Regions from separate parts of the Homo sapiens genome. Here region 1 is linked to region 2. Evidence: fine-mapped expression QTL. A gene starts in region 2. The other region holds a variant in brackets. All regions are shown on one strand. Distances are between the middles of the regions. Region 1 has its middle 9.4 kb from the start of ZNF425. Region 2 holds the start of ZNF786 (zinc finger protein 786).

What was found. PIP is the estimated chance that this variant, and not a neighbour inherited with it, causes the effect.
Region 1: its variant is fine-mapped to the expression of ZNF786 in whole blood (INTERVAL, PIP above 0.99).

Annotation. Positions count from the first base shown.
Region 1 is chr7:149,134,272-149,137,178 of GRCh38, reverse strand. It overlaps a transcript of ZNF398 not described here. Among named protein-coding and RNA genes, the nearest start is that of ZNF425, 9.4 kb to the right of the region's middle. The variant G/A (reference allele first, on the strand shown) is at 1,619.
Region 2 is chr7:149,089,165-149,092,071 of GRCh38, reverse strand. It overlaps ZNF786 (zinc finger protein 786), which reads left to right and starts at 1,354. Exons shown (of 4, transcript NM_152411.4): 1 at 1,354-1,449. The coding sequence starts at 1,432. RefSeq lists silencers at 503-992, 1,113-1,412.

The sequences.
Region 1 (2,907 bases), 45 kb before region 2:
AGCAATTCAATGGGCCGGGCATGGTGGCTCACACCTGTAATCCCAGCACTTTGGGAGGCTGAGGTGGGAGGATCACCTGAGGTCAGGAGTTCAAGACCAGCTTGGCTAACATGGTGAAACCCCGTCTCTGCTAAAAATACAAAAATTAGCCAGGCATGCTGGTGGGTGCCTGTAATCCCAGCTACTTGGGAGGCTGAGGCAAGAGAATCACTTGAACCCAGAAAGTGAAGGTTGTGGTGAGCCCAGACCATGCCATTGCACTCCATCCTGGGCCACAAGAGCAAAACTCGGTCTCAAAAAAAAAAAAAAAAGGCCCAGCGCGGTGGCTCACGCCTGTAATCGCAGCATTTTGGGAGGCCAAGGCAGGTGGATCACGAGGTCAGGAGATCGAGACCAGCCTGGCCAACACAGTGAAATCCTGTCTCTACTAAAAATATTAAAAAATTAGCTGGGTGTGGTGGCGGGCGCCTGTAATCCCAGCTACATGGGAGGCTGAGACAGGAGAATCCCTTGAACCCAGGAGGCAGAGGTTGCAGTAAGCCTAGATCATGCCACTGCACTCCAACCTGGGTGACAGTGTAAGACTCCATCTCAAAAAAGAAAAAAAAAGCACTTAAATGAAGATAGAAAAAGTTTTTCAACAAATTGTGTCTCAACTATTGGACTTTCATATGCAAAAAAATGAACCTGAACCCAACTCTTACACTTTTTACACAAAGTAAATAAAAACAGATAACAGATATAAATTTAAACTGGGAAGTGAGGAGCACCTCTGCCCGGCCGCCAACCCGTCTGGGAAGTGAGGCGCACCTCTGCCTGGCAGCTGCACTGTCTAAAAAGTGAGGAGTGCCTCTGCTCGGCCGCCCCACAGTCTGGGAAGTGAGGAGCGCCTCTGCCTGGCCGCTCTGCAACCCTCTAAGTGTGAGGTGGCAGCCTTGAGTGTGATTTTTACGCCCTCCCCAAGTTTGCATTTTTGACATTAAATTTTACTTTTAAATTAAAAGCTTTAAATAGGGGAATATAAATAAACATATAAATAAATAAATAAATAAATTTAAAACATAAAACTAGGAAATTTCTAGAACAAAACCAAATATTTATGACCTTGAATTAGGCAGAGTTCTTACACATGATACCAAAACCCCAATCCACAAAAAGCAACAAAGTACAAATTGGACTTAATCAAAATTAAAGCTTTATTATTATTATTATTGTTATTAGTTTTTGGAGACGTAGTCTCCGTCTCCCAGGCTGGAGTGCAATGGCATGATCTTGGCTCACTGCAACGTCCGCCTCCTGGGGTCAAGTGATTCTCATGCTCAGCCTCTTGAGTAGCTGGGACTACAGGCGCGCACCACCATGCCCAGCTAATTTTTGAATTTTTAGTGGAGACTGGGATTCACCATGTTGGCCAGGCTGATCTTCAACTATTGCTTACCTCAAGTGATCTGTCTGCTTCAGCCTCCCAAAGTGCTGGGATTACAGGTGTGAGCTACCGCACCCGGACTATTATTATTATTCTAATAGTTTTTGGGGAACAGGTAGTGTTTAGCGACATGGATAAGTTCTCCAGGTGTGATATCTGGGATTTGGTGCATCCATCACTCAAGCAGTGTAC[G/A]CAGCAGCATCCAGTGTGTAGTCTTCTATCCCTCACCCCTGCTCCCAGTCTTCCCAAGTCCCCATAGTCCACTATATCATTCTTATGACTTTGCGTCCTCATAGCTTAGCTCCCACTTAAAATTAAAGCTTTCTTTTTTTCTTTCTTTCTTTTTTTTTTTTTTTTTTTTTTGAGACAGAGTCTTGCTCTGTCACCCAGGCTGGAGTGCAGTGGCGCGATCTCGGCACACTGCAAGCTCCACCTCCCAGGTTCATGCCATTCTCCTGCCTCAGCCTACTAAGTAGCTGGGACTACGGGCACCTGCCACGACGCCCGGCTATTTTTTTGGTATTTTTAGTAGAGACGGGGTTTCACCGTGTTGGCCAGGATAAAATATTTACTAATCATATATCCAACAAAGGACTTACATTCAGAATAAATTAAGAACTGTCAAAACTGAATAAGAAAATAAACCACTTTCAAATGCCTGCCTTCTTCAACTAGGCTTTGTTAATGTGGTTATTGCAATCAGCATTATCTCTAACAGTCTTTAACATAATAAATGAGGTCAGGTGGTAATCCCAGCATTTTGGGAGGCCGAGCTGGGCAGGTCACCTGAGCCCAGGGATTCCAGACCAGCCTGGCCAACATGATGAAACCCCTTCTCTACTAAAAATACAAAAATTAGCTGGGCGTGGTGGTGTGTGCCTGTAGTCCCAGCTGCTTGGGAGGCTGAGGCATGAGAATTGCTTGAACCAGGGAGGCAGAGGTTGCGGTGAGCCAAGATTGCGCCACTGCATTCCCGCCTGGGCGACAGAGCCAGACTCTGTCCAAAAACATAAAAATAAAAGTGCTGAAGGAAAAAAAACAGCCTGGGCAACAGAGTGAGACTCCATCTCTAAACAAATAATAAATGATTAGGTGTTACTCTTTTACCTATTATCTAATGTCTAGTTAATATATCTTTAAAAGTACTCAGAGTTGAAAAAATAAACTTTAAGTTGTACAGAGAGATCATTAAGAATATAATGGATGGGATGCTGTGGCTCACATCTGTAGTCCCCAAACTTTGAAAGGCTGAGGTGGGAGCATCTTGAGCCCAGAGGGTGGAGGCTGCAGTGAGCTATTATCACACCACTGCACTCCAGCCTGGGCAACAGAATGAGATCTCATATCAAAAAGACAAAAACGGGCTGAGCGTGGTGGCTCACACCTGTAATCCTAGCACTTTGGGAGGCCGGTGGGGAGGGGGGTTGGATTACCTGACATCAGGAGTTCAAGACCAGCCTGGCCAACATGGTGAAACCCCG
Region 2 (2,907 bases):
AAACCTCGTCTCTACTAAAAATACAAAAATTAGCCGGGCGTGGTGGCAAATGCCTGTAATCCCAGCTACTCGGGAGGCTGAGGCAGGAGAATTGCTTGAATCCAGGAGACAGAGGTTGCAGTGAGCCGAGATTGCGCCACAGCACTCCAGCCTGGGTGACAAGAGTGAGACTTTGTCTCCAAAAAAAAAAAATTGTACTGTATAACAGTTGTAAAAATAAAAAACGTTAAACAGTAAGGTGCATGTACATTTCACGATTCTGTGGCAAACACAGATGCGTATATGCTCCTCAGCCTACGCAGGGACTATTTTATTTCTTATGCACATCCTCTCCAAACTACACACTTTTCCTTTGCTACTTCAGCCTGACACCTAAGACATGACTAAGACAGAATGCGAGGTTGATTTTCTGGAGACAATCGCCACCCCCTTCCTCGCCCTCTCTCCTTTCTGTCTCTTCCTGGTTTCCCCACCTCTCCCCTGTTCTTGCGTTCTCGTGTTTCTCACGCCCTGTGTCATGGCCTCCTCCGTCTTCTCCTCCTACTCTGTCTCTGTCTCCTGCCGGGGCCCGGGGTGCCCGACCGCAGCCTTGGGCCACCCTGAGTCCCTGCAGGCGGCCCTGAGGCCGGGGTGGCTTCCGCATGGGGTCTCTGCCCAAGGCCGTTCTCTGCTAAGGAAGGAGCGTGGCCGCCCGGGGAGCCCGGAGGGCTCTAGACCCACGGCGACCGGACCTGGTGGGCGGACCCCGCCTCCGCGTCCCCGGCGGGACAAGCATGGGGCCCCCACGGCCTCCGCGCCCCCGGCGGGACGGATGCCCCGGGCCACCGCGGGCAGCGCGCGCCCCCCACCCACTTTCCGGCCTCGCTGGATTCCCGGGACCCCCTCACAGACGAAGCCTGTCTCGGGGGCGGCTTTGGGAGGAACCGCACCGGAGGTTCCCCTCTCGCTGCCTCTCAGTCTGGGTTTCTGTGGAGCGCGTCTCCCTGTCCCTGTCCCTGATCTCTCCCTGTCCCTGTCCCTGATCTCTCCATGTCCTGCCCCTCCGTTTCCCCTCCGGCCAGCTCCTCAGCTTGTCTCTGACCGCTTCCCTCCCCAGATCCCGGGAATCCGAGGGTCCCTCAAAGACCGGCGTGCTGCGGCCTGCTCTGAGGGCGCCCGGGCCCCTGGGTCCCTCCTCTGAGGACCGACGCTCAGGCAGCGCCGCTTCTTCCTCCCGCAGGAGGCGCTGTAGGACTGAGCGGCAGCCGCGGCCGGGCGCCGGGTCCCAGCATGCACCGCGCCCGGCCGGCGCTGCGTTTGGGGGCCACCCGGGCTGTGCGTGGGAGTCGGGTTGGGGCGGAGCGGAGGGGAGTCAGTGCGCAGCAGGGCAGGTTCCTGCGGAGCCGCCGGAGACGGTCGGGTTTGCCAGGGCCGGGCGGGACCGCGGGGACCATGGCGGAGCCGCCTCGGGTAAGCGGGCTAGCCTGTTTGGACGCCCGGTTTCGGGGTCGTGGTGGGTCCTCGGGTTCCGGGCTCGCCCGTGTCCTGGGGTCCCCGTGAGTGCGCGCGGTGCACGGGTAGGACGGAGTCTGCAGGCTGCTTCTGCTGGGGATGTGGATTCCGGGCCCTGCGGTGAGCAGGTGGCCTCCGCTCCCGCGGCTTGTCCGTGGCCAAACCCCTGGACAAAGCCGAGCGTGGACCGAGGCCGACCTAGGAGCGGGGCGGAGCCTGGGCGAGGATGCCGGGCGGACGGGGAGCGGACGGTGGAAAGGATAGAAAGGTTTGGGGCCAGAGGTGGATGTTACAGGTCAACCAGTTTTACATCATAGTCACCGAAATCAGAACAACTGTTCCAAAAAGTTTAAGATTCCGAATGGTTGAAATGGTGTTTGGCGGGGGCTTCAATGTCAGAATTTATTGTCTAGCGTGATTTGGGTTGAGTGTAAGATGATACGTTGGGAAGAGTAGAAGAGGATACAAAAAATTAAGTTAGTGGTTTCTTAAAATCGAGGTTTAGAGGGTATTTTTATCTTGTAAACTTTAATGTTGAGGATTTTTGCTGATTATTAAATGAATTAGGCCGGGCGCGGTGGCTCACGCCTGTAATCCCAGCACTTTGGGAGGCCGAGGCGGGTGGATCACGTGAGGTCGGGAGTTCGAGACCAGCCTGGCCAACATGGTGAAACCCCAACTCTACTAAAAATACAAAAAATTAGCCTGGCATGATGGCGGGCGCCTGTAATCCCAGCTACTCGGGAGGCTCAGGCAGGAGAATTGTTTGAACCCGGGAGACGGAGGTTGCAGTGAGCCGAGACTGCACCATTGCACTCCAGCCTGGGCAACAAGAGCGAAACTCCGTCTCCAAAAATATATACATACCTATATATATGGGGAAAGGATATAAACAGCCAAATCACAGACCTGAAAATAAATTATTAATGAGTAAAAGAATGGATTTTAAAACTTGTGACATTCAGGCCAGGCGCCGTGGTTTACGCCTGTAATCCCAGCACTTTGAGAGGCCGAGGTGGGCAGATCACTTGACGTCAGGAGTTCAAGACCAGCCTGGCCAACATGGCGAAAAACTGTCTCTACTAAAAAATACGAAAATTAGCTGAGTGTGGTGGCGGACGCCTGTAATCCCAGCTCCTCGGGAGGCTGAGGTAGGGAGAATTGCTTGAACTCGGGAGGTGGAGGTTGCAGCGAACTGAGATGGCGCCACTGCACTCCAGCCTGGGCGACAGAGCGAGACTCTATCTCAAAAACAAACAAACTTGTGACATTCAGACGGTGGAACACTATACAAAATTAAAATAAATTAGCTACATATATGATCAACAGGGCCGGGCGTGGTGGCTCACGCCTCTAATCCCAGCACTTTGGGAGGCCAAGGCGGGCGGATCACGAGATCAGGAGATCGAGACCATC